Regions from separate parts of the Homo sapiens genome. Here region 1 is linked to region 2. The links come from fine-mapping of genetic effects on plasma protein levels. A gene starts in region 2. The other region holds a variant in brackets. All regions are shown on one strand. Distances are between the middles of the regions. Region 1 overlaps GPC5 (glypican 5). Region 2 holds the start of GPC5 (glypican 5).

Evidence for each region. PIP is the posterior inclusion probability: the model's chance that the variant is causal. Protein levels are from antibody-based Olink assays in UK Biobank. Linkage for the fine-mapping came from a reference panel and not from the study's own genotypes, which makes the PIPs less certain.
Region 1: its variant is fine-mapped to the plasma level of the GPC5 protein (UK Biobank, PIP above 0.99).

What each region holds. Positions count from the first base shown.
Region 1 is chr13:91,763,083-91,766,001 of GRCh38, reverse strand. All of the region lies in intron 5 of GPC5 (glypican 5), which reads right to left. Among named protein-coding and RNA genes, the nearest start is that of GPC5, 370 kb to the right of the region's middle. The variant A/G (reference allele first, on the strand shown) is at 1,198.
Region 2 is chr13:91,397,176-91,400,094 of GRCh38, reverse strand. It overlaps GPC5 (glypican 5), which reads right to left and starts at 1,474. Exons shown (of 8, transcript NM_004466.6): 1 at 886-1,474. The coding sequence starts at 1,048. LOC124903189 (a long non-coding RNA gene) reads right to left here. Exons shown (of 2, transcript XR_007063831.1): 2 at 2,507-2,749. RefSeq lists silencers at 1,390-1,659, 1,366-1,660.

The sequences.
Region 1 (2,919 bases), 370 kb before region 2:
TGTATTTATGTATTACAGAATTTTAAGTGAATACAAATATACAGAAAATATAGTATAACACTCCGTTCCCATCAAACAGCTTCAATGATTACTCACTCAGAAAACTTCACTTCAAATATAATATGACCCTCTTTCTCCCACTCACTGAATTATTTTAAAGCATTCTCAGTCATTATCTCATCTCATCCATATTTTAAAGAATTTATTTTAATTGAATGAAAACTCATATCACATATTACCTCTTTCATTAAATACTGTTGAATCCTCTCAATCAAAAAAGAATTTTCCCCTATTTGAAAGTCTGTGGGATTGTACACTTCTTTTATTTCAAAACCTGTTTTGCTGTGAATGTGTTTTGTGAACATGTTTTCTACCAGTTTGAGATTCCAAGTCCCTGAAAGATTGGGAAAATATCTCATATAACTTTGCGTTCCATTCAAGGTCTATTGCAGTATCTTGAATTTGGAAACTAGTTTTCTGTCTTCTCTGCACCACTTCCAAGTACATGGAAAAGGGTGCTAAAATAGTACTCTTTCTGTTTCCATTTCAGCCAAGAACAAGGGACAATAGATGGCATACACCCCTCACTTTCAGTGAGGTGCTAGACATGAAAAGCAGATGACTGAAACCTTGTTTTCAGTCCCACAGTTTGACATCCACCTTAATTGAATAAAAGGATTGAAGTTGAAGAGAACAAAGCAGGGAACTTGTTTGAAGAAAGCTGATTGAACTGCTACGGCATTCCCTCATTCATTGGTCCTAGGTGAGAGAAGTGTTGAAGGATCCTTGGAGCTGGAAGGACTAAAAGGGCTGGTAGTTGGCCTATGCCTACGCAAATGGAAGGCAGCCCATTCTTGTAGCAGAAGTTGGCTGTCTAGTGGCAGAGTAAAGAGAGGCAGCTGCATTAGGTGTAGGCTGTACTTCCACCAAAAGTAGAAAAGAGAGGGAAGGTTTCTATGGGCTAGAATAGATGATATGGGAGAAAAGGAACCCACCAAAAGATCTCAGCAGAAAGAGGCCAAAACATTACCATCACATGGAGAAATAGAGGGGAGAGACATTGTCTTAAGCACACAAAAGCACTAGGGCATCAGCTGTTAATACCTGCCAGGCTAGAAAACATCAATGAGAGATCATAAAATTACCAGTCACAAAGAATGATTTCTTCTCTCACTTCTTCTTTCTCACTTTTGATCC[A/G]TCATCTCCCCAGCTCGAAACCTGCCAACTACAAGCACAGGGGAGTCAGAAACATTGTTTGAAGGACGAGGAGAGTGCAAGGTTGGCACACGAACCTGAAAAGGTTCACATACACACCCTACTAGGGACTCTTAGACTGAAGCAGAACCTAACTGGACGAGGGGAAAAACGAAGAGTAAGAGAATTTCACACGTTTGATTATTAGGTTGGACTGGACATTTTCATTACTGAATTTACACGGTTTATGGAACTAACCCATAATGAAAGAGCCTTCAGGCACTAATAGTGAGCAAAAAAATTCTGACAGCTGGCCATGATTTTATTCTGGTGACAAAGTAAAAATGGCATTCCTAGAGGATTTAATGTTTCTACTCAGACCTTTCTGAGTCTGGCTTTCTGAATGTAATGATTACACACGCTTAACAAGAGACAACTGATTACCAAGCCAATACGTCATTAAAGAGAGATACGGAAGACCTGTCTCAGCTCAGAAGATGATATACCACGCAATTATTGCCGCATTCATAGAGCATTTTTAGAAAAGACCAAAATGTGTATATTGACCTGAGAATGATTAATATTTCCCTAAGCTTTAACCGTAGTTAGGAATGTCAGGACTTGGAGCCAAGCTGATAAAATGTGCATGTCCTTGCAAACATCTCCTGTATTACAGTTGGCCCTCTGGATCCACCAGTTCCAGATCAAGGATTCAACTGTGTTCAAGGATTCGACCAACCACGAATCAAAAATATTTGAAGAAAAAAATATATAAAAATAAAAAACAACACCAAGTTTTAAAAAACAGTATAACAACTATTTACACAGCATTTACATTGTATTAGGTACTATATTTAGTCTAGAGATGATTTAAAGTAAACAGGAGGATGTGCATCGGTTATACGCAAATACTACCCCATTTTATAGCTGGGACTTGAGCATCCTTGAGTTCTGGTACCTGAGAGAGGTCCTGGACACAATTCCCCATGGATACCAAGGGGTGACTATATTTGTTATAGACCCAAACCATGAGATAACTACTTAGGGACTATCAATGAAATAAAAATTACCTACCAAGAAAGTGTAATAGAGGAAGGCAGGGAGAGTACAACTGTGGCATAGGGATATTATACAGCCAAGAATCCTGCAAATTTATTTTCTGTTGATTTCAAACCATCAGCCATACCTGGATTTGTCTAATTGAACCTAGAATGTGTAATCTGCAATGTGATGAATTCTGTAGTCCCTTATATCTGAAACTGCAATTTTTATTTTTGTCACAAATGAGCACAAATGTTTCAGTTCTTCCCTTAATGAAGACTGCAAACTCAGACTTTTGACTTTGGGCAGGTCTTTGCACGTGGATCTACTCCTCATTCCAGTGCCTCATCTTTTTGATAGGAACAATCCCACCCAACATGTCTCTAACCCAAAACATTTCAGATTCATGGGGTTCTTTAGATTCCCATTTAACAAAAATGTCCATGAAAGTGCGTACCATGAGATGTACATGGTCTTAAAGTTGTCCGGGGGGGAGAAAAAATCAGCATCCAGAGTCAGCATAGATTGTAACTTGTATGATTCATCTCCCTTCATCTAATCTTCCTTTCAGGCATCAACTTCACTTTGGACCCACGTATTACCCATCAGAGCGTTATCACCAAGTCCAAAGTCCTAAATCTCTTAGTTCTCACTAATGCTTATAAAAATGTCATTCCCTCAGAG
Region 2 (2,919 bases):
TATTGCGTTTGACAGCTATGACCTATTCTTCCAGACAGAACCTACACTGGAACTCCCACCAGCAGAAGGAAATTGGTGCGGTGGAAACGGGGAGCAGGGTTCGAAAGCACAGGCAAAAGGCGCTCACAGGAAGCAAGATCCACGCTGGCCACACAAACTGTATCTTTCCCTTTGGAACGCTGGTACATCTCATCCATGTCAAGTGACTCCCCAGTACGTTCGGTTTGATCGCCTGTTGCCCTAACACTTTTCAGGCTAAAAACTACCTTGGTGCTGGGAGACACACTGGGTGGTTGGGTTTCCTCCAAGCAGGGCTTGATACGAGGGCACAGAAGGGCAGCTAAGGGTCACGTCTCTGGGTGCACAGGGTCCAAGTCCTAATTACAGAGGAGACCGGCTGCCCTTGTCTGTGCCCCATTCTCCAGCAAAGGGGTATATCGCAGGTTTGTGATTTTTAGTACCAAACTTGGGGCGATCAATTCAATTCCCTCCACCTTATGAGAAAGCAGTAAACCGAAATCCCCGGTGGGGCACTGGGGAAATTCCTACTCGGAAGAGAAACGGAGTTAGACTGCGTGTCCCCCACGCCCTGATGTCTGCTTTCCTGGTTCCTTCCAACTCATCCTCCAAGACGAAGGGAGCCGGGCGGGAAGCAGATGCCCAGAACGGGGATTCGTCGCAGGCTTGGTTAGGGGTCCCCAGAGCTGCGCTGCGCTGCACTCAGGCTACCCGCACCAAGCATCCCCGGAAGCCTCCCCGGGATTCACCCTGCGCGGCTGCAGGGCCCGAAAGGTCATCTTCCCACGAGTGCCACCAAGGGAGCCTGGGGGAGCGAAGGCCGGGCTCGGACGCCGCCAGTCCAGAGACCCCCTCATTGCCCCTTACCTGCCCGCGGCGAATCCGGCAGCCCCCTGACAGCTCCCAGCAGCCGCCACTGGAAAAGTTTCCGAACTTCTTCGCAGGTCTGCACGCCCTCGCTGCGGGCGGACCCAACCAGGGCCAGAAGGAGGAGGCAGCGAAAGCCCACGGGCCAGGTCTGTGCGTCCATCCTCGCCGTCCTGGTCCCCTTTACCCGCCAGTGGACCCCACTCGCCCTGCGCGCCCTGGCTGAGCTGCAGACGTGGAAGACACAGCGGCCGAGGCTCTCGAGCGGTGCGAGCCGGCTGCGGGGTGTACGGACCGCCCGCGGGCACCGGCTTCACCTGGGAGCAGTTAGCTCTTCCCGGAGGAGGCCCTAAGCTGAGACACCAGAGTTTTCCAGCTGAGCACCCTCTGGTCTTCTTCCCTAGCCGAGAAGAGTGGGCGGCTGGGCGGGGCGAAGAAAACTAGTGGAGCCGCAGGGAGCCCGCAAGCATCCGCTCTGGCCACCACTGCTGCAACTGCTGCCGCTGCCGCCACTGCCGCCACTGCCGCCACTGCCGCCGCCGCCGCCGCCTCCGCCGCCCGGCTCGGCTCGCAGCAGCTAACCTGGGATGTGCCCGCTCGCTGCGCTCCGCGGAAGCCCCGCCCCGCACTCCCCGCCCCGCGGACAGGCCACGCCCCTGCCACGCCCCCGGCGCGCTGTCCCGCTCCGCACCCACTAAGATGCTGTCATACGCGGCCCAGTGCTGAAGACTCGGAGCGACATCGATGCAAATAAATAGAAGGAAACCCGGACCTCGCTCTCCCAGTCCGTTCTGGGGAAGAATCATCTGATAAAAACAGAGAATGTATAAATAGGGTCAGAGAAGACAAGAGATGAGAAACACCAACTGGAACTAAGAAATATCTCATCTATGTAATCAAGGTCCTCAGTACATAGGAATTTGTATTCTAATTGCATTAAATAGGATCTGGACATAATACAAAAGGCAAAAACTATTTACGGTTAAAGATCTCAATTGAGAGACTTCATAACACTTAGGTTGTTAAAGAGTGCACATGAGAAGTTATTTTTTAAAATGGCTTTGTTTTACTGCTTAGGAACATTTTTCTATAACATGATTTTCTGAAAGGAGGTATAAGAATTACAATCAAACTTTATCACATTCTTATCACAATGAAATCTAGTTTTAAGTCTCTTATCACCATTTAGCATCATATTTTACTTCAGCACTTTGTATTTGTGGGGCTCCTCTGAGCTTTACCACTTCTGGAATTTCTTTAAAATATTTTTCAGAGAGCAATTAAGTTAAGAGTGCTCAGGGGAGTTCCTTACAAGGAATATAGAAAAATAAATACTTTAAGCAATTTTAAAATGGCAAAGGAATTTTGTCAATTTACAGTTTATGAGAGGAATGCATTACGCACCATAAACCAAAGGGCAGGTGCATTTTTTAAATGTGGTTGACTCAACAACTAAGCCTGTAAGAGTGTCTCAATCTACAGCCACTTGAAGAGAGTACTCCTTCTGTAAAATAAACTAGTTAAAAGCATCAGGCAGAGGGGACAATGAATGCTTTAACCACTTTAAGGAATTTCATCTCAAATTTGAACCCTTACCAAGAGATAGTAGTGAAAAACTTTATGTCTTAGTGAAGATTTTTAATGAACATTTAATATCAAAGGCAGCACTTTCAGCAGTATATCACTTGCTTTAAAACCATTCCAGGGCAATGGCTGAAACACTGCTTCAGAGTGAAATCATGCTACTTGGTGTTTGGCATCAGTTTTCTGAATATGAGATTTTGTTTCAAAGGGCAGTGCTCTTCATGAATCTCTTCTGCTCTAACCACCAAGTATGGAAAGATTGTCTGGAAGCCACCTATATCTATGAAAAGAAACAAGAAAAACCATGAGAATGTATATAGTGCTTATGGGCCAGATAATATTCTAAGTATTTTATGGAAATGAATTCACTCATGTAATCTTTATAACAACCTTATAAAGTAGTTACTACTATTATCATTGTTTTACAGATGAGGAAACAGGAACACAGAG